2 separate regions of the Homo sapiens genome follow, and region 1 is linked to region 2. The links come from fine-mapping of genetic effects on gene expression. A gene starts in region 2. The other region holds a variant in brackets. All regions are shown on one strand. Distances are from middle to middle. Region 1 overlaps CIROZ (ciliated left-right organizer protein containing ZP-N domains). Region 2 holds the start of CIROZ (ciliated left-right organizer protein containing ZP-N domains).

Region 1 (11,576 bases), 24 kb after region 2:
TGAGATGGAGTCTTGCTCTGTTGCCCAGGCTGGAGTGCAGTGGTGCAATCTCGGCTCTCTGCAACATCTGCCTCCTGGGTTCAAGCGATTCTCCTGCCTCAGCCTCCCAAGTAGCTAGGATTAGAGGTGTGTGCCACCATGCCCTGCTAATTTTTGTATTTTTAGTAGAGATGGAGTTTCACCATGTTGGCCAGGCTGGTCTTGAACTCCTGACCTCAAATGATCCACCTGCCCCAGCCTCCCAAAGTGCTGGGATTACAGGTGGGAGCCACTGCACCCGGCCTGTTTTTTTAAAGAGACAGGATCTTGCTCCGTCACGCAGGCTCACTGCAGCCTTGACCTCCTGAGCTTAAGGGATCCTCCCACTTCAGCCTCCCAAGTAGCTGGGACTATAGGCGTATGACACCATGCCCAGCTAATGTTCAAATTTTTTGTAGAGACGGCGTCTCACTGTGTTGCCCAGGCTGGTCTCAAACTCCTGGCTTCAGGCGATCCTCTCACCTTGGCCTCTCAAAGCCCTGGGATTATAGGCGTGGGCCACTACGCCTGGCCCAGCAAACACTTATATATGGCTCATTCTGTGCTGGGTGCCGTTCTACTCACTTTGCAAATATTAACTCATCTCACCTTCATAGCGATTCTATGTAGTTGGTTCTATATTGATCCCCATTCTGCAGGTGAGAGAACTAAGCAGAGAGAGATTAGGAGACTTGCCAGCTGGTAGCAACAGAGCTGGGCTTTGAGCCAGACCACATGGTGGGGGCTGGGGATGCTGGAACAGGCACAACCTACAGTCCTGGCCCCCTACAGAGGGAGCTGAGGCTGGACTGCACTCCAGCCCCATTTTGCCAGATTTTCCAACATTTCAAGATAAACTGGAAATCTATAATTGTATGTGAAATCCTCCAGTTAAAAAAAGTTCACTTTATTTATTTATTTTTTTGAGATGCAGTCTCGTTCTGTCACCCAGGCTGGAGTGCAGTGGCGTGATCTCAGCTCACTGCAACTTTCGCCTCCTGGGTTCAAGTGATTCTCCTGCCTCAGCCTCACGAGTAGCTGGGATTACAGGCATGCATTACCATACTCGGCTAATTTTTTATATTTTTGGTAGAGACGGGGTTTCCTCATGTTGGCCAGGCTGGTCTAGAACTCCTGACCTCAAGTGATCCGCCTGCCTCGGCCTCCCAAAGTGCTGGGATTACAGGTGTGAGCCACCACGCCCGGTCAAGTCACTTTAATTTTGTAGGCACTGTGCGGCTCAAACAAAGTGCTGGATTTGGCCTGAGGGATTTGGGTGGGCATCTTCTGTCTGTGAGGAGGAGGAGGAAGGAAGGAGGAAGAGAAAGGAGAGGAAGGCAGAACTGAGAGGAGGAGGTTGGAGTGAAAAGGCTGCTGATGACAAACACCATTTATCCAACAAGCATTTGTTCATTTATTTATTTTGAGACAGAGTCTCGCTCTGTTGCCTAGGCTGGCGTACAGCGGTGTGATCTCGGCTCACTGTAACCTCTGCCTCCTGGGTTCAAGCGATTCTCATGGGATCACAGGCATGCGCCACCACCAGTTTAATTAAAGCCAGTTGATTTTTAAAATATTTTTTGCGTTTTTAGTAGAGATGGGGTTTCACCATGTTGGCCAGGCTAGTCTCGAACTCCTGACCTCAACCGATCCACCTGCCTTGGCCTCCCAAAATGCTAGGATTACAGGCGTGAGCTGCCGCGCCTGGCCCCAACAAGCATTTATTGAGCATCTATTGTATGCCCAGCCCTGTGCTGCTGCTGAGGGAACAGATACGACCAAGGCATGACTTGCCCCAGGAAGAGCTTATCGCTTTCTTCTCATCTGATCTGAGCTTCAAAAATGAGTGTGCTGTGGTGGGAAGGGCCCCTGCACCAGCCCAGCTCAGAAGACCTGGGCTCATCTCCGCTCTGAGCCCGGCTCACTGCCATGTTGGACTCTCTAAAGTTCCTTTGCTTCTTAACCTGAAGGAGCAGGGGCTGAGCGGGAGGGGCTTCCTCTGCCCACCTACCTTTATTAAGGGCTCAGAGTGGCCACGCCAAAGCCAGTGTTGGTGCACCTAAGAATTGCGGGGCCGGCCCCGCCCCGGGATCCCCAAGCAGGGCTGCCAGGGCACCTGTTTGACATCCCGGGGCTGGTTACTGCTCCCTTTGCACTGAGCCTGTGATTCTGGAAGCCGCCGCTAGGGGGACGGTGTTGCTGTCCTCACACGACAGTGGGCCTGGGCCGAATTGCTGAGAAAAGCAGAAACGACTCCTCACTCGGGCGCCGCTTGGTCTCCATCGTCCTGCCCTTGAAGCCCAGATGCCCCAATGCCCCAGTCCCTGGCATCCTTCACTGACCGAGGTGTGGGAGCAGGTGGGTGGGGGGGGCTCTGCATCCGTAAACAGAGTCGCACAGAGGTAGGCAGCACACAAGGAGCAGAGGCAGGTCTCTGCTGCCCCCGCCTCCCCTCCAGCCCCTTCCCCCATCTGAGAACCTCATCGAATTGACTGATTCATTCCTGGTGACTTCTGCAGCCGCCACTTCCGTGGCTGCACCTTGAACTTGCATTAAGTTTTAATTAAAGCCGTTTCACCGGCCTTGCCCTTGGCTAAATGCAGCTGTGGGCACAGGGCACATAGATATTTAATACTCTGCCTCTCCCCGCTGATGGCGCAGGGTGCCCAAGGGTGTACCCGAGCCGTGCCCTGCTCGCAGCGATCTGCGAGCTCGCTTAAGTGTGCCCACAGGCCCCGAGCGGGAGGCCGCGCAATAACTATTCATTGCCCTGGGTTAAGTGTGCCCAGGGGCACCCGTAAACTCAATGCAGTGATTAGCGATTGCTCCCAGTGAAGGCTGCCCGAGCTCCTGCGGAATGTCCACGGGCCCTAAATATAGCCTCCTCCTGGCGACTTAAAGGGCACGGTGCGTTTTGGCTGCGTACTTGTCACGTCTTCCCTTCCTTTCTTTTTTTTTCTTGGAGACAGAGTCTCACTCTGGCCAGAGTCGCCCAGGCTGGAGTGAGTGGGACAATCTCAGTTCACTGCAACTTCCGCCTCCCAGGTTGAAGCGAACCTCGTGCCTCAGCCTCCTGAGTAGCTGGGACTACAGGCGCCTGCCACCACTCCTGGCTAATTTTTTTATTTTTTATTTTTTGTATTTTCGGTAAAGATGGGGTTTCACCATGTTGCCCAGGCTGGTCTGGAACTCCTGAGCTCAGGTGATCCACCCGCCTCAGCCTCCCAAAGTGCTGAGATTCCAGGCATGAGCCACTGCACCTGGCCTTCCCTTCCTTCTTTTAGCAGAATTGCTTCCCTCCTTCTTACAGCCTGGCCTCTGGGGGCCTCTCTGTCTTCTTCCTGGTTCAGCAGGGGAGATGGGCTGGGGCACCATGGTGCAGCTTTGGTGGTGTTGTTGAGGAATTGCCGCATCCTCCTCATTCTGCCAGACCTTGTGGACATCTCCTCCATTTCTTCCACTTTGCTCCCCAAGGGAAGGCAGCACCCCCTAAAAGCAAGGCCATCACAGGGCTGACCCGAGGGGCTCCCTGTGGGCAGCCCGAGCCTGCTGCCAACATGGGCTCTCTGGGGCCAAGGAACAGCCGAGCTGGGCAACTGGGGAGGCTGCATGGTGGTGGCGGGCCTTTTCCTGGCCCCACCCACTCCTTTCTGCTTCTGGAAGCCCTTCTTTGCCCCTGGGGAGAAGAGGTGGGTAGCCTTGAGTTGGGGAGCTGTCAAGATGAGTCAGTCCACTCTGGCTCCAGTCTCCTCATTCTGTATTGGGTAGGAGAGGGGGTCTGATGGTCTCCGAGGGACCCTCTGCTGGTCTGTGACTCTGTCCGGTGCCACAACCTCCCTGGCCAAGTCTGACGCAAAGGCAAAGGGGCATTTGGAGAAAGTAGAGAGACTTGAGAGAGCACCTGGGTGGGGTGGCACTGGCTGCAGAGGGGTTTTGGGGAAGGTGCCTTGCCCACGCCATCACCTTGGGCCCTGGTCTGTGAAACGGGAGAATGGTGCCACCCTACGGGATGGCTGTGAGACTCAGGCGCGGTACGAGAAACCACTGTCTCGGTTTGCCTGGGCCTGTCTCAGTTTTAGCACTGAAAATCCCACATCAGGGGAACCTCCCCACTGCTGGGGAACCGGGATGGTTGGTGCCCCTAAGAATGGTGCCATTGGGGGGCACATGTGTACTCTCTGGGACCGTAGAAGCCCTCACTCTCTACTTCTGCTAGTTGGATCCAAAGTGGAAAGAAAAAGGGCGAGAAAGAAATTGGGACTTAGGGAGAAAAACAGACAAGAGGCCTAGGAAACAGCCCCAATGGAAGTGGGCCGTGAGCAGGGTTGGTCCCATGCACACCCGCTCTTGGCCTCACCAGCTGCGCCCAGGACCCCAGCTGCCCCCTTGGCCGGGCCTAGGATGGCAGCTGAGGCAGTGACATTTCCCTGCGTCTGTTGACACTCGAGTCCCAGAACATAAATGATTTTCTTGTCTTAATGAGCAAACAACCCTGCGGCACAGCTCTCTCACCGGCCTCCTGCTGGGGTAATTGCCGGTGCTGATGGGCACAGGCAGGGATGTTTGCTCACCTTTGCTCACCGCTTGCAGGAGACATTGCTTCCTCTTTGTCTCTGCAGGTCTCCCGGCCCCTGCCCCTGTGGAGGGACAATAGACAGGTAAGCGGGCCCCATTGAAGTAGCAGGAGCAACTCTCTGGAAGTTTCTGCTAGGACTGGTGGGTGCTCAGGATGCTCTGAGGCAGCTTTTGAGTTTGCTTGTCCTCCGGAGAGTGTCGTGGATGGTACAGACTCTTCAAGGACCAGGTCTTGCCGGCTGAAGTTTGAAGCTCCCACTGATGCCCTCCAGGCAGAGGCCTGAGGCCATCTGAGAACAATCTTGAAGAGGGGACCCCAGCTTTGGGTGGGAGGCTGGGTTGGAAGGCTGTAAGGTCCTTCCTGTGCTAAGATTCTCTCTGCCAAGTCTCCAGTGACAGGGAGCTTGTTCCTTTGTAAGGAGCTTGTTCCATGTTGCACAGGTGTTTCCCGAATTTTCCTTCTGCTGGTCCTTTGAGTGTTTCCCGCAGCCTCCCCGAAGGATCCAGTCCCTCTTCTCCATTTCACATCCCTTTGAATATTTGGGGTCAGTGAGCTTGACCTCCCCAAGTCTTCCTGATGTCTCCCTGCCAGTCCTCCTGAGATGGGAGCTGGCGACCCTTCCCTGTCCCTCTGCCCGCATCTGGCCCTCACCTTTATTCAAGACCCTGATTCCCATGTCCCACTAAAGGGTGGCAAACAGAGCCAAGGACAGGACTCCAGTTGTGCCCAGCCAGGGCGGCATAGGGGCCGACTGGTTGGCATTGCTGTTAGGGGTAACTGTGTGTTCGTTCTTTCAGTTGCGTTGTACACCTACTGTGTGCCAGGCACCCCTGCAAGGGACCTCCTACCCTAAAGTATAAGCGTGCTAGCGTCTGGTTGACTCTCCTCCCAGAGTGGCCTGCCGTCCTGCCTCCTGGCCTAGATTATCCTCCCCGTGACCCTGTTGCCTTCCTAGGTGACCCTTCAAGTGTCCCCTCTCCGTAACCCCTAGTGACCGTGCCTCCCTGGCCACATGGTTTGTGATCGTGTCCTCTTTCTCCAGACTCCATGGCTGCTGTCCCTTCGAGGGGAGCTGGTGGCTTCTCTTGAAGACGCCAGCCTGATGGGACTGTATGTGGACATGAATGCCACCACTGTCACCGTCCAAAGCCCGAGACAAGGCCTTCTTCAGAGGTGGGAGGTCAGTGGTGGGCAGCAGGCTCTGCCAGGAGGTGAGGGGCCTCTGGGGCATAGCACCTAGAAGAGCAGGTTGCCACCCCTCCAGTGACAAGTCAAATGTCCACCTGCGAGACTGGACAGATTTAGGCAGGCGCCTTCGAAAATTGGGCCCCATTAGCGTAAAGCGCTCCGCTCTGCAGATGAGGGGCTCCTGCAATCATGCATTCAGTGCGTCCTGATCATGGCGGCAGGAGCGTAATTAC[C/T]GTCTCTTTAAATAGCCCAAAGTTGCTGTGTAAGAGAAGACGGCTCACATGACATTTGCTCTGAGCTCGCTTCCTGCTAAAAATATCTCAGCTAAATAATATTTCCTAGTTGCATCGGCGCCATAATCCCTGACCTGGGCTTTGTAACACTTGGGGCTTTAGTTCAGAGACTAATTCGAAGGTAGGAGAGGGGGCCCCTGTGGAGGGAGTCTGCATCTGGAAGGAGCAGTTTTGGAGACCTCAGGGGGGACCCCCCTTCCTCCCCAGGTGCTGAACACCTCTGCTGAGCTCCTGCCACTATGGCTGGTGAGCGGTCACCATGCCTATTCTTTAGAAGCTGCTTGCCCACCGGGTAAGACCCAGGAGTGCCCCTAATGTCCACCTTTCCAACTTCATCACATTCTGGTCTGTTTTCTCCCTCCTCTGGGCACCTTATTCCCCTCTGTCTCATCCCACCTCTCCTCTCCTCAGTCCCAACCTTGGCTATGCGTTTCAGAAATGCTCGGGACAAAGAGAAGTTTGCTTTTGCTGGAAGGTGTTGGGGTATGTGTGTGTGGAGTAGGGGTGGGATGTGGGGTGAATAAAAAGTAAAATCATCGGCCGGGCGCGGTGGCTCACGCCTGTAATCCCAGCACTTTGGGAGGCCGCGGCGGGTGGATTACGAGGTCAGGAGATCAAGACCATCCTGGCTAACACGGTGAAACCCTGTCTCTACTAAAAAAATACAAAAAATTAGCCGGGCGTGGTGGCGGGGGCCTGTAGTCCTAGCTACTCAGGAGGCTGAGGCAGGAGAATGGCGTGAACCTGGGAGGCGGAGCTTGCAGTGAGCCGAGATGGTGCCACTGCACTCCAGCCTGGGGGACAGAGCGAGACTCCATCTCAAAAAAAAAAAAAAAAGTAAAATCATCTACTACAGACCTGCAAACTTGAGGTCTGCAAATTCTTGGGAGCTCCTAAGCTGGCTCCAGAGGCTCTGAGAACAGAGACGGGAGAGAGCCTGCAGCCTGGTCAGACCCTCCAGGGCTCTGTGATCTGAGGGTGGTGGGGACCCCCTATCTAGACCATGTATGTGATAACTGTTTTGTTCAGCCTGGAGTGACACCGTTGCCCTGGGTCTTATGTCATATAAAGAGGTCCGGAATCTGGAAGACCACTTCCTACCTCCAGGGAATTTAAATTCAAAGAACTCGGTGTGCAAAGTTAGGTGGATCAAAGGCTTCATCCTGTGTGGGTAGATTAGAGGTGGTTTAGACTTTCCATTTGTATAGAATTTTATCATGGACTGAGTTTCGGGATCAGGGCTCAGGGCTCTGGGGATTTTCAGGCATTGGCAATGACCATGATGAGCCTCCAACCATCTCTTTCCCTGTTCACAGTGTTTCAAATCCCTTTATATAAAGGCAGATGCTTCCATTAGCAGCTGCAGAGCTGGCTTAAAATGTCCCCCTGAGAGCCTGACACAGTGAAATTCTTGCTAAAGTGTAAACAACTGATAGGAGCTGTATTTCTTTCTTTTTTTTTTTTTTTTTTGAGATGGAGTTTCACTCTTGTTGCCCAGGTGGGAGTGCAGTGGTGCGATCTCGGCTCATTGCAACCTCCACCTCCAGGGTTCAAGCGATTCTCCTGCCTCAGCCTCCCAAGTAGCTGGGATTACAGGCACCCGCCACCACGCCTGGCTAATTTTTTGTGTTTTTAGTAGAGATGGGGTTTCACCATGTAGGCCAGGCTGGTCTTGAAATCCTGACCTGAGGTAATCCACCCACCTCGGCCTCCCAAAGTGCTGGGATTACAGGCATGGACCACTGTGCCTGGCCTAGGAGTTATATTACTTAAGAGTTGCTTTGGAAATGGAAGGGGCACTGGGCTAGGTCACCGAAGCCAAAGACGGTCTCAGTAGAGACATTTCTGCAGCTTCCCTCCTGGCATCTGCTTCCTGATGGGCCTTTGCAAGTGGCAAGGTCTGTCAGGTGTTTGGGAATGGTCTTTTTTTCTTCTCTTCTTCATCCATGCAGCTAAGTTTCAGCCCAGGCAGTGATACCAGGACACCAAGTAACTTGCTGTCACTGACTGGGGAAGTGTGCTGTGCCGGCCACAGGTGTGGCCCCTGGCAAAGGCCCACCACCACTTAATTTGTCCACGAGCCTGCAAAGTGTGCCTTTTTCTGTGTCCTGTGTCCTTCCCATTCCAGTGTCATTCCAGCCAGAGTCGGAGGTCTTAGTTCACATCCCCAAGCAGAGACTGGGTCTAGTCAAAAGAGGTTCCTACATTGAGGAAACCCTGAGCCTCAGATTCCTCCGAGTCCACCAGTCCAACATCTTTATGGTGACTGAGAACAAGGACTTTGTGGTGGTCAGCATTCCGGCGGCCGGGGTGCTCCAGGTCCAGGTGAGTATCCGGTGGCATCTCTGTCTCGCCCCTTCTCTTCCTGAGGCCCTTCTCCTTTGGTCACCGATGCCATATGTGGTCAGAAACATGGAAGGTAGGCCAGTCACAGTGGCTCGTGCCTGTAATCCCAGCACTTTGGGAAGCCGAGGCCGGAGCGTCACTTGAGCCTGGGAGTTCAAGACCAGCCTGGGAAACATAGTGAGACCTCATTGCTACAAAAAAATTACAAAATGAGGTGGGAGAATTGCTTGATCTTAGGGAGTTGAGTCTGTAATGAGCTGTGATTGTGCCACTGCACTCCTGCCTAGGCAATGGGAGTGAGACCCTGTCTCAAAAAATAAAAGTAAAAAAGAAAGAAATGTGGAGGGCAGAGCTGTGGCGCTGGCTGAAAATGGACTTCACCATGTATGCTCCTCAGGCCCGTGCTTTTACCAAGGTAGCCCCATCAGGGGACAGCCACAGGGCATGGGATGCCCCTGCCATGTGCAACTAATTTCTTATCTTTTCTTTTCTTTTCTTTTCTTTTTTTTTTTTTTGAGACAGAGTCTCGCTCTGTTGCCCAGGCTGGAGTGCAGTGGCGCGATCTCGGCTCACTGAAACCTCCTCCTCCTGGGTTCAAGCGATTCTCCTGCCTCAGCCTCCCGAGTAGCTGGGACTACAGGTGCCCACCACCACGCCCAGCTAATTTTTTGTGTTTTTAGTAGAGACAGGGTTTCACTGTGTTAGCCAGATGGTCTCGATCTCCTGACCTCATGATCCGCCTGCCTCAGCCTCCCAAAGTGCTGGGATTACAGGCGTGAGCCACTGCGCCCAGCCAATGTGCAACTAATTTCTTGTGGCCCCACAGCGATGCCAAGAAGTCGGAGGAACCCCGGGAACACAAGCTTTCTATAGGGTAGACCTGAGCCTGGAATTTGCCGAGATGGCTGCCCCGGTCCTCTGGACAGTGGAGAGCTTCTTCCAGTGTGTGGGTGAGTGAGGCACCATGAGGGTGTGACTGCTGGTAACAGGCACACACCACACAAACCCTCTTTCCTTGGCCCTGGGGTTCTTTCTTCTGTGACAATGTTTCACTCCCTGGACCCGACAGATCCCACACCTACAAGGTAAGTGAGGTGTCAGACATACTGGCTGGAACTGGCAGAAGAACAACAGTATCATGAGAACTGAGTGGTGATGTGGTTCCTGGCCCTGGAGTCTGCCAGGGAGGGGACAAGGGAGGCGGATGGGGGTGCATCCATTTCCTAACCAACCGTACAACCTCAGTGAGTTACTTAACCATGTTGAGCCTCAGTTTTCCCATCTGGAAAATAGGCATACCAGTACCTATTTTGAGGACTGAATGAGATAAGGGGAATCAATGGCTTAGAAGAGTGAGTGCCTGGCACAAGAAGAGCTGTTTCCATTTATCCACTCTCTCTGTGTGGGCTCCAGTTCCTCCGGTCATTTGGTAGACAGACGAGTGTCCTTGGCAAAGAGCACGACACGATGCAACTTGTTTCTCAGCTCAAGAGGAACCTTCTTCTAAACGTGGTGTATGCCTTCATGCTAGGATGCTGGGATGGGGTTTTTGGCGAAAGCTCCGCTAATGGACAACCTGGTATTCACACATGCAAAACCACCAGGAGCAAAATCCATTGAAATACAGCACAAGGAAATGCACGTAATTCACAAACGATGTCGATCACTTTCATCTTATACTTCCTAACTGTCCTCAATCGAAGACAGACGCGAAGGAGATTTAACTCAGATGTTAATAGTGCAAGTTTGCCCTGTCACGAGGATATGATGTTTCGGTGTTGCACAAAAGTGTAATTATATTCAGAACTATATTTAAAGATTAAAAGGGGGACTGCCTACCACAGCTAGCCCCAAATTCAGAATTAGAAACAAAGAAAAAGGCGGGATTGGGGGTGAGTTCTGACAGTCTGCTAAAAATGGAAATGTTTCTTGAAAATTTTTACACATTTTGGCTGTTTTTATTTTAACAGTTTCCTGCAGTGATGACATTAATCTTGGAAAGCGAGGGCTAGAACTTTATCCAACAGATATTCAATAAGCAGTTGCGATTTATGAGGCCCCATGCAAGGCTTAGGTGGGAATAGAGGCTGCTGGATTTGGTTCTTGCTCTCAAGCAGCGTCCAATCTGGAAGGGGAGATAAGAAATGCCCACAGAAAGGCCAGACGCGGTGGCTCACGCCTATAATCCCAGCACTTTGGGAGGCCAAGGTGGGAGGATCACTTGAGGCCAGGAGTTTGAGATCAGCCTGGCCAACATGGCGAAACCCTGTCTCTCCTAAAAGAAGACATCTCTAATCTGTAATCGCAGCTACTTGGGAGGCTGAGGCAGGAGAATCGCTTGCACCTGGGAGGTGGAGGTTGCAGTGAGCTGAGATTGTGCCACTGCATTCCAGCCTGGGCAACAGAGCAAGACTCGTCTCAAAACAGAAACAAAACCAAAAAACAACACCAAAAAAATGCCCAGAGAATTATGAGGGCAGGTGAACTCAGGAGAGATGTCAGAGAGTAGGTGATCTTTATCCTAGGTTTTGATGAGAGGGCAGGTCCTTGATAGGAAGATACAGAGTACAGTATAAAAATAGATCAGCAACAGCAATAGAAACATTTTAGGAAGAGTTTTTTTGGCCTCTCTGGAAAGATTTACACGGGGAAAGAATGTTCTCTTCCTCATTTTGTTAATTTTACATCAGCAACCAGAATGAATCTCTCCCCTCCCTGGTTCCCAGCACACCTCCCCTGCACCTCCCCAGCAGCTTCCCTGCAGCTTCGAGGTCTTTCTATTCTTATTATAGTTATGGTGCATGCTCCTGTCTCTCCCTCTAGTATGAATTCATTCAGATCAGGGGCTGTGTCCTGTTCGGCTTCTTATTCTTGACAGGCCTTATCTTGCCGCCTTGCCCTTGTAAGCACTTCATAAATGCTTGTTGGCTTGAATTTTCACCAGGAATTAAAGAAAAAAGTTTTACACAGATAATATTTTTCTTTTGTAAATATGTGACTAATGTGTTGGAATATTAATATATGCTAGAATTGCCTAAACTCCCCGTGGTTAGAGATTTTTAAAAAATCTTCCTCTTCCCTGACCCCAAAAGTAATTAGAACCTATAGGACAAATCCTAATTATTGAAGTGTCTGGTCTGCAGAAATCTAAGAGA
Region 2 (10,577 bases):
TTCTCTCTTTCTTTCTCTCTTTCTTTCTTTCTTTTTTTTCAGACAGGGTCTCTTGCTCTGTCGCCCAGGCTGGAGTGCAGTGGCACAATCTCGGCTCAATGCAACCTCCGCCTCCCTGGTTCAAGCGATTCTTGCACCTCAGCCTCCCAAGTAGCTGGAATTACAGGCGCCCGCCACCATGTCTGGCTAATTTTTGTGTTTTTAGTAGAGGTGGGGTTTCTCCATGTTGGCCAGGCTGGTCTCAAACTCCCGACCTCAGGTGATCCACCTGCTGTGGCCTCCCAAAGTGCTGGGATTACAGGCGTGAGCCACCGCGCCCGGTCTCATGATTCTAATAGAGCAAAAAAGACCGTGTTTCACCAACAGGCTGCATTGCCCATTCACCTTCTGCCTCTCAGGCAACCAAGTATCTAGTTATTTTGTGTGTTTGTAACTGACTGATCAGGAGGAACTTCAGCAAGCCTGGTAATAGTTTGGTTAAATGTTGGTTTCCTCCTCATAAAAGTGGTAAGTAATGGTGCCAGATCTCAGCAAGATGGACATCCTGAAAAGGCCTGGGAAGCTTGGCAGTTGGAATCAATATGTATATTTTTAGTAATCGTTAACCTCTAAGTATCAAAGGAGACCAGTGAGTGGGTCAGTGGTTTCTGCTTTTGAAAAACCAGCTCAGTGGGTATTTGCAAGAGAAGGAAGGTGTTAATAAGAAAACCATGGGGAAAACCGTGCTGGGGCTGACTTGGCCAATTCTCACGGCTTCCAACTATTGCATAAAAGCTACTCTTGACCGGGCGCGGTGGCTCACGCCTGTAATCCCAGCACTTTGGGAGGCTGAGACGGGTGGATCACGAGGTCAGGAGATCAAGACCATCCTGGCTAACACGGTGAAACACCGACTCTACTAAAAACACACACAAAAAAATGAGCCAGGCTTGATGACGCACGCCTGTGGTCCCAGCTACTCAGGAGGCTGAGGCAGGAGAATCACTTAAACCCGGGAGGCAGAGGTTGCAGTGAGCTGAGATTGCATCACTGCACTCCAGCCTGGGTGACAGAGCGAGACTGTCTCAAAAAAAAAAAAAAAAGAAAGCTATTTTGAAAATGTGATTTTCCCAAATGGAGAAATGAAATTTGAGCTCCACTGGAAAGACCCCAATGAAATTGCTTTCTCTAAAAATATCTAAGACGGGAGCCCCTACTGCGTGTGTGTGTGTGCGCGCGCATTTCTAGGAGTGTGTGGGGCATATGCTAAGAGTTTTGTATAGGGTTGTGTGTGTAGGTGGGTTTCAGGGTGTGTGTGTAGAGATGTCTGTGGCTATGTTTATAGGTGTGTGCGTGTGTGTGTAGGAGGAATGGGGTTTAGGGTATCAGATTAGGAAAGAAAACCTGTTTTTCAATTCCTGTTTCTTCTTCTCTTTTTAAGATTTAAACAACAGCTCCAGGGTGGTCCTTGCAGGTTCTCTGAGTGAGCTGTGTACCAGTGATGTTTGCCCTGGCTTTGGCGTTTCTGTTTGAGGCCTTATGAAGTGGGCCAGGGCATCTGGGCCTCCTCCAGGGCCCGTGAGGGTTTCACCAGCTGTGTGTTCTGATCCTGCCTGCTTCTGTTTGGTGTGATGAGGGCCTTTCACCTGAGCGTGAACAGATCCTGGTGACAACCAGCTTCCATGCACCACTCTGGGTCTCCACTTCCAACTCCATGTCTTCTTAGGCGGCTCATGATAAATCCCGAGCAATTTGGGATTAAAGGAAAAGTTGGTCAACAAAAAGATGAGTTAAAAAGAGAAACAGGGCTGGGTGTGGTGGCTCACGCTTGTAATCCCAGCACTTTGGGAGGCTGAGGCGGGTGGATCTCGAGGTCAGGAATTTAAGTTCAGCCTGGCCAAGATGGTGAAACCCCGCCTCTACTAAAAATACAAAAAATTAGCCAGGCGTGGTGGCAGGTGCCTGTAATCCCAGCTACTCGGGAGGATGAGGCAGAGAATTGCTTGAACCTGGGAGGTGGAGGTTGCAGTGAGCAGAGATCGTGCCACTGCACTCCAGCCTGGGTGACAGAGTGAAACTCCGTCTCAAAAAAAGAAAAGAAAAAGAGAAACAGGCTGGGTGCAGTGGCTCACACCTGTAATCTCAGCACTCTGGAAGCCTGAGGCAGGAGAATCACTTGAGCCTAGAAGTTTGAGACCAGCCTGGACAACGTAGTGGTATCTTTCGTACGGACCCCATCTCAGAGACCTCTGGTCTCTGTCTCTTGTTTGTTTGTTTTTTGAGATAGGGTCTTGCTCTGTCGCCCGGGCTGGAGTGCAGTGGTGTGATCTCAGCTCACTGCAACCTCTGCCTCCTGGGTTCAAGTGATTCTCGTGCCTCAACCTCCCGAGTAGCTAGAATGAGTGATATGCGCCATGATGCCTGGCTAATTTTTGTATTTTTAGTAGAGATGGGGTTTCACCATGTTGGCCAGGCTGGCCTCAAACTCCTGACCTCAAGTGATCTGCCCACCTCAGCCTCCCAATGTGCTGGGATTACAGGCGTGAGCCACCGTGGCTGTTCCCTCTGGTCTCTTTTGTCTCTAGAAAAAATTTAAAAATCATCCAAGCATGGTGGTGTGTGCCTGTATTCTCAGTTACTCAGGAGGCTGAAACAGGAGGATTGCTTGAACCCAGGAGGTCGAGGCTGCAGTGAACCGTGATTGCACCATTGCACTCATGCCTGGGTGACAGAGTAGGACCCTGTCTCAAAGAAAAAAAAAAAAGCCAAATCCCAGATATGTGGGAATGTGACCTTATTTAGAAATAGGGTCTTTGCTGATGCAATCAAGTTAAGTGAGGTCATACTGGATTAGGCTGGCCCTTAATCCAGTAATTAGAGTCTTTATAAGAAGAGGAAAATTGGGGCCGGGCGTGGTGGCTCAGGCCTGTAATCCCAGCACTTAGTGCCCCTGTACTCCAGCCCGGTGACAGAGTGAGACTCTCTCTCAAAAAAAAAAAAAAGAAAAAGAAAAATGTGGACAGAGACACCCAGGAAGAATACCATATGCTGGTGACGGAGGCAGAGATGGGAGTGATGCAGCTACAAGCCCAGGACACCCAGGACTGCCACCAGCCACTAGAAGCTAGGAAGAGGCAGGGAACGACCCTCCCCTGGGATCTTTAGAGAGATCGTGGCCCTGCTGACACCTGGATTTTGGACTTCTGGCCTCTAAACCTGGGAGATAATTAGTTTCTGGTTTTTTTTTTTTTTTTTGAGATGGAGTTTCGCTCATCACCCAGGCTAGAATGCAGTGGCGCCATCTTGGATCACTTGCAACCTCCGCCTCCTGGGTTCAAGCGATTCTCCTGCCTCAGCCTCCTGAGTAGCTGGGATTACAGGCGTGTGCCATCATGCCCGGCTAATTTTTGTAATTTTAGTAGAGATGGGGTTTCGCCATATTGGCCAGGCTGGTCTCGAACTCCTGACCTCAGGTGATCTGCCAACCTCAGCCTCCTAAAATGTTGGGATTACAGGCTCTCTTTCTCTCTCTCCCTCTCTGTCTCTCTTCCTGAGATACAATCTTGCTCTGTTGCCCAGGCTGGAGTGAGCCACTGTGCCTGGCTTCCTCGACTTTCAATAATGGCAAGTATTTGGGGCGGGGGGAGGAAGGGATAAACACAGATAAAATGGAATAGTTAAAATCAAGACTTTTTTTTTTTTTCACTTGCAAAGGGTATTAGGAACCATCTAGTCCTAAATCCTCATTTTGCAGGGATATTTGTTTGCAAGGGCTGCCACGACAGAGTACCACAGACTTGGGATTTACACACCAATTGATTTCTTCACAGTTCTAGAGGCTAGGAGTCTGAGATCAAGGTGCAGGCAGGGCTGGTTTCTCCGGAGCTGCCTCTCTGGCTCACAGCTGGCCATCTTCTCCCTGTGTCCTCACACCGTCATTCCTCCGTATGTGTCCGTGCCCTAATCTCCTCTTCCTTTTTTTTTTTTTTTTTGAGACGGAGTCTTATTGTATCGCCCAGGCTGGAGTGCAATGGCACGATCTCAGCTGTCTGCAATCTCTGCCTTCCAGGTTCAAGCGATTCTCCTGCCTCAGCCTCCAGAGTAGCTGGGATTACAGGTGCCCACCACCAAGCCCGGCTATTTTTTGTATTTTTGGTAGAGACAGGGTTTCACCATGTTGGCCAGGCTGGTCTCAAACTCCTGACCTGATGATCCACCCACCTCAGCCTCCCAAAGTGCTAGGATTACAGGCGTGAGTCACTGCGCCTGGTCTTTTTTTTTTTTTTTTTTTTTTTTTTTTTTTTTTTTTTTTTTTTTAGACGGAGTTTTGCTCTTGTCACCCAGGCTGCAGTACAATGGTACGATCTTGGCTCACTGCAACCTCCATCTCCCGGGTTCAAGCAATTCTCCTGCCTTAACTTCCCAAGTAGCTGGGATTACAGGCGTGCACCCCCACACCTGGCTAGTTTTGTATTTTTAGTAGAGATAAGGTTTCACCATGTTGGCCAGGCTGGTCTCGAAGTCCTGACATCAGGTGATCAGCCTGCCTCGCCCTCCCAAATCACTGGGATTATGGGCATGAGTGACTGTGCCCGGCCCCTTTTTTTTTTTTTTTTAGACAGGGTCTTGTTCTGTTGCCCAGGCTGGAGTGCAGTAGCACAATCAGGGCTCACTGCAGCCTCAACCTCCTGGGCTCAAGCAATCCTCTCACCTCAGCCTCCTGAGTAGCTAGGACCACAGGTGTGTGCCACCATGCCCAGCTAGTTTTTAAATTTTTTGTAGAGACAGGGTCTTGCCATGTTCCCCTGGCTTGTTTCGAACTCCTGACCTCAAACAATCTGCCCATCTCTGCATCCCAAAATGCTGGGGTTACAGGCATGAGCCACCATGCCTGGCCCCTCAGCTCCTTTTGAACTCTGCCAGGAGGGGCCTGGAGCAGGGTTCTGGGAAGCCCCATCAAGACAGCGTGACTGTTCCTCCGGTGAAGCTCAGTTTCTTAGCTTCTTTCCTTCCTTGGGCACAGAGACAGGCTTCTCCCGGGAGCGGAGAATGAGGGCCTGCACTCCAGCCTCAGTGGATCAATTCATCTTCAGCCTTCTGATCCGCAATCTTATTTTGAGCTCCCACGGCTGAAGCAATTCATCTCACCCATGCAGAGGGATGGGGAGAAGCTGAGAGTGTTGACACCCACCTGTGTTTTCTGGCACCTGAGTGACCCGAGACCTGCACTGGAGGGGAAGGGGAGGAGCCAACCTTTCGTTTAGTTGCTTGGAACTGCTTCAGATTAAATTCTCCCAGGGCAGGAGAGAGCTGCTGGGCCTGAGGATGTGGGGGTCCCCAGCACTTGCCTGGTAAGTGTCCCTTATTCAGGAATTGGGAGAAGCCAGTGGCATGCTTAGTGTGCCCACACTCCTTGAAGAAGCCAAATATCTTCCATCAGAATCAGAAGCCTTGCATCTAAGAGGGAAGGGGGCCAAATGGGTGAGGGGCCCAGATGCATGGATGCCTTGGGAAGGGCTGACTTTCTCAGGTGAGGTCCGGCCACAGTCTCTCCCACCTTTCTCATGCTCCTGTCATCCCTTGTTCTGGAATTCCAGTCCTCCCATCTTGGGAAGGATTTCCAGAAGATTGGGAGAAAACAGAACACGTCTTCCTTGTCCTAGAGGGTCCTTAAAACAAAACAAATTAGGGGTCAAGTTGACCAAGAGATGCTTGATTTCAAGGAGTTTTCAAATGATAGGAGTTGTGGTCGCTAGCTATTCGATTGTAAGGATTAGGAGAAAATTTCATTTTCCTTCCTTCCCTCCCTTCCTTCCTTCCCTCCCTGCCTTCCTTCCTTTCTCCTTCCTTCCTTCCCTTTCCTTTCTTTTCTCTTTCTCTCTCTCTCTCCCTCTCTGTCTCTCCTTCTTCCTGAGATAGAGTCTTGCTCTGTTGCCCAGGCTGGAGTGCAGTGGCAAGATCATAGTTCACTGTCATCTCTTAACTCCTGGGCTCAAGTGATCATCCCACTTTAGCCTCCTGAGTAGCTGGGACCATAGGCATGTGCCACCACACTTTGGTAATTTTTTAATTTTTTTGTAGAGACAGGGTCTTACTGTGTTGCCCAGGCTGGTCTTAAACTCCTGGGTTCAAGCCATCCTCCTGTCTCGGCCTCCCAAAGTATTGGGATTACGGGCATGACTCACTGCACTTGGCCAAAATCTCATTTTCCTTGGCAACAGAATTGCTACCTCTTTTCCCCATCTGAGATGCATTTTTAAGAGATACTTTAAAAAGCTCCTGAGAGTGGGAAGTGAAGCCTCCCAGGCCAGCTGGAATGTCACAATAGCTGGCTTGTGGCCTTTGGGCCGTGGACTGCAGGGCTTTTGTTGGGCGTTTTGTGAGGTTGAAGTCTGTAGACAATGAAGGCAGTGGAGAAGCTGAGTGGGGCTTTGTGGGGCTGGGCGAGCAAGGGGGAGGTCCGGGCCCTGTCCTGGGGACCCATTGCCTTCTCCTGGATGCCCCATGAGGGGGCTCAGCTTTGGGGGATGGAGCATCATGTCTCCCCCCAGACTGGGATGGGGCAGTTCTGGGTCTGAGAAGTGAGGGGGAAAAACCCAAACCCACATCTTTCTCCCGATTGATGCTCAAGGAGGAGAACAGGAGCAGGCATCAGACGGAGGGGAGAGCTGTCTACCCCCCACCTGCCACCGGGCCGATTCCAGACAGCATTCCCTGTGTAACAGCAGAGTCGGGGTCCCTGGCAAGGCCGGGACTCAGCACCAGAGTCAGCCACTTTCCTTTTCCCCAAGATTATTCTTCTGGTCCTGTCTCAGATTTACTCGCTCTGGGAGAACCTTCCTTCAAGACCAATTGCCCCAGCCAGGTTTTTGTTTTGCAAATTAATCAACTAATAATAGCGCCTCCCCGCTGCTGGGAGAGGAATTCCGCATTGGGCTCAGTGTCCAGGCAGCAGAGCCCAGGGCGGGTACCCGGCCGTCCATGGGAGAGGCTCGCCACAGGCGCTTCTGAATTCAGCGAATGAAGCGGGGCAGCGGGGCAGCCAGGCAGCCGCAAGCTCCTCCCAGCTCAAAGGCTGCAGGCTCAGCTTAGATTCCAGGCTGGGGAACCAGTCCTGTCATTCTTTGCCAACCCACTCTGGGGAGACTGTGGGCCCTGGCATTTGGCCTCCCTGGGCTGGGCCTGAGGCCCTGGCCCTCTGCCCACCCAGGAATCGAATGGCTCAACGAGGGCAGCCCTAGAAGGAAATGCAGCACCCATTCCTGCCTTTTCACATTGCTTTTTAAACTGTTAACTTTCTTTCTTTCTTTTTTTTGAGACGGAGTTTTGCTCTTGTTGCCCAGGCTGGAGCGCAATGGTGAGATCTCGGCTCACCACAACCTCCACCTCCCAGGTTCAAGCGATTTTCCTGCCTCAGCCTCCTGAGTAGCTGGGATTACAGGCATGCGCCACCGCACCTGGCTAATTTCGTATTTTTAGTAGAGATAGGGTTTCACCATGTTGGCTAGGCTGCTCTCAAACCCCTGACCTCAAGTGATCCGCCCGCCTCCGCTTCCCAAAGTGCTGGGATTACAGGCGTGAGCCACTGCACCCGTCCAATAGTAGTTTCTTTCTTTTCATTGCAGTTCAGTATTCCATTGTAGGAGTAGACCACAATGGGTCCATTCTACCACTGCTGGGCGCTGGGGTGGTTTCCAGGTTACAGGAAATAATAGCACTGCTGTCAACAGTCTTGCACGTGTCCTCTGATGCCCTTGTGCTTGCCTTGCAGTTGGAGAGGAAGCGCTGGGTCGAAGGGTGGAGGAATGTTCAGTCTTAGTAGATTCTACCAGTTCCCAAGAGTGGTTGAACCAACCTCACTCCCGCCAGGAGGCAGGAGCTTTCTCAATGCTCCACATTCTGCCAATCTCTCCCTGTCATTCTTTCTTTCCAGCTTCTGGCTTCAGGATTATTTCCTGAACTCCTCTAAGGAAAGCTTCTTTGTGGGAAGTTTAGGTTCTTGCCTGCAGTCATTTTAAATAGTTGGAGTCTCAGCTGCCCGAAGAGTCTTTTAAAATGTGAGATCCTTGCCCTGGGTGCGGTGGCCCACACCTGTAATCCCAGCATTTTGAGAGGCTGAGGTGGGCGAATAACTTGAAGCCAGGAGCTCAAGACCAGCCATGGCCAACATGGTGAAACCCCCGACTCTACTAAAAATACAAAAATTAGCCAGGCGTGGTGGCACACGCCTGTAATCCTAGCTACTCAGGAGGCTGAGGCACGAGAATCACTTAAATCTGAGAAGCAGAGATTGCAGTGAGCCGAGACTGTGCCACTGCACTCCAGCCTGGGTGACAGAGTGAGATACTCAGTCTCAAAAAAGAAAAAAAAAGTGAGATCCTCTTCCTTCCCTGCTTAGAGTTCTCCAGGGCTTCCCACAATTTTTTATGGTAAAACCCCAGCCTGCACCCCTGGCCATGGCTCCTGCCTGCCCCTCTCCTTTTTGCCCACCAGCGGCCCCTCTGTCACTGGCTCTAGTTCCACTGACCTTCTTTTGAGTCCTTAAACACAAACACACCAAACTCATTTCCGACTGTTTGCTGTGCACTGACTATTTCCTCTGCTGAGGAATGCCCTTCCCCAGGTCTTTGCATGGGACTCTTTCTTTTTTTTTGAGACAGGGTCTCGCTTTGTTACCCAGGCTGGAGTGCAGTGGGACAATCATTGCTCATTGCAACCTAGACCTCCCAGGCTCAAGCAATCCTCCCACCTCAGCCTCCTGAGTAGCTGGGACCACAAGCGCATGCCACCACACCAGGTTAATTTTAAAATCTTTTTGTAGACATCGAGTCTTGCTATTTTGCCCAGGCTGGTCTCAAACTCCTGGGCTCAAGTGATCCTCCTGCCTCAGTCTCCCAAAGTGTTGGGATTATAGGCATAAGCCACCATGCCCAGCGGGACTCCGTGACATACATACCATCTTGGTTCAACTGTCACCTCTCAGTGATGTTTTACCTGACATAAAGAAATTTGGGGGCTCGGTGCAGTGGCTCACGCCTGTAATCCCAGCACTTTGGGAGACTGAGGTGAGTGGGTCGCTTGAGCTTAGGAGTTTGAGACCAGCCTGGGCAACATGGTGAAACCCCATCTCTACAAAAAAAATACTAATAAATTAGCCGGGCGTGGTGGCTAACTTTTTTTTTTTTTTTTTACTGTGGAGTTTTGTTCTTGTCACCCAGGCTGGAGTGGTACAATGTCACGCTCTCAGCTCACTGCGACTTCCGCCTCTCGGGTTCAAGCGATTCTCCTGCCTCAGCCTCCTGAGTAGCTGGGATTACATGCGTGTGCCATCACGCCTGGCTAATTTTTGTATTTTTAGTACAGACGAGGTTTTGCCATGTTGACCAGTTTGGTCTTAAACTCCTGACCTCAGGTGATCTGTCAGCCTCAGCCTCCAAAGTGCTGGGATTACAGGCGTGAACCACAGCGCCTGGCAAAAACAGAAATTTGGAATAAACAAAAATATTATTTTTAAAGGTTACTGGTGTCTTCAATGGAAAACTAAGCATTATTTGGAGAAGAGGGTTCCTGCTGTCTAACTCCAGCCTTTCATCACCTTTGTGCTATCTTATGGTGCTCTAAGTCATAGAGAACCTATGGCAATGCAACCAATTCCTGCCTATGGACACGCAAATAAATTTCATGGGGGAGGTTCCATTGGCTTCCCTTCCCCACTGTGGAAGAAGCCAGTTTGGTGTCTATTTGCATCCTGATCTAGAAATGTATCTGTTCTTTCTTCTCCTTTGAACTGGTTGTAACCTCTGCCTGGTTCCCTCACTAATAATGAGTTAATAAAATCTTTAATACAGATTCATCATTTTATTTATTTATTTATTTATTGGAGATGGAGTCTTACTCTGTCATGCAGGCTGGAGTGCAGTGGCGTGATCTCATCTCACTGCAATCTCCGCCTACTGGGCTCAAGCAATTCTCTTGTCTCAGCCTCCCGAGTAGCTGGGATTACAGGCGCACGCCACCACGCCCGGGGAATTTTTGTATTTTAGTAGAGACGGGGTTTCACCATGTTGGCCAGGCTGGTCTTGAACTCCTGATCTCAGGTGATCTGCCCGCCTCGGCCTCCCAAAGTGCTGGGATTATAGGCACGAGATTCATCATTTAAAATCTTTTTGAGGCCAGGCATGGTGGCTCACACCTGTAATCCCAGCACTAGGGTCTCACTGTAGTCCTCCAGGCTGGAGTACAGTGGTGCAATCACTGCTCACTATAGCCTTGACTTCCCGGGCCCAGGTGATCCTCCCACCTCAGCCTCCTGAGTAGCTGAGACTACAGGCATGCGCCACCATGCCCAGCTAATGTTTTATAGTTTTAATAGAGACAGGGTTTCACCATGTTGCCCAGGCTGATCTTGAACTCCTGGGCTCAAGCCATCCCCCGCTGCCTCAGCATCCCAAAGTGTTGGGATTACAGCTGTGAGCCCTCGCACCCGGCCTAAAATCTATGTTGCCTTTTTTGAGGATGATCTTTTCACACTGACCTCCCCATCAGAGGTCCTCTCAGGCTCTCTGTATCTCACCACTCTGTTTCATTTTCTTCTGAGC

Evidence for each region. PIP is the estimated chance that this variant, and not a neighbour inherited with it, causes the effect.
Region 1: its variant is fine-mapped to the expression of CIROZ in whole blood (TOPMed, PIP above 0.99).

The regions. Positions count from the first base shown.
Region 1 is chr1:10,951,814-10,963,389 of GRCh38, reverse strand. It overlaps CIROZ (ciliated left-right organizer protein containing ZP-N domains), which reads left to right. Exons shown (of 13, transcript NM_001170754.2): 6 at 4,638-4,676; 7 at 5,637-5,774; 8 at 6,283-6,367; 9 at 8,204-8,400; 10 at 9,248-9,371. Among named protein-coding and RNA genes, the nearest start is that of CIROZ, 24 kb to the left of the region's middle. RefSeq lists a silencer at 2,024-2,318 and enhancers at 2,621-3,390, 4,160-4,929. The variant C/T (reference allele first, on the strand shown) is at 6,016.
Region 2 is chr1:10,976,765-10,987,341 of GRCh38, reverse strand. It overlaps CIROZ (ciliated left-right organizer protein containing ZP-N domains), which reads left to right and starts at 5,266. Exons shown (of 13, transcript NM_001170754.2): 1 at 5,266-5,330. The coding sequence starts at 5,305.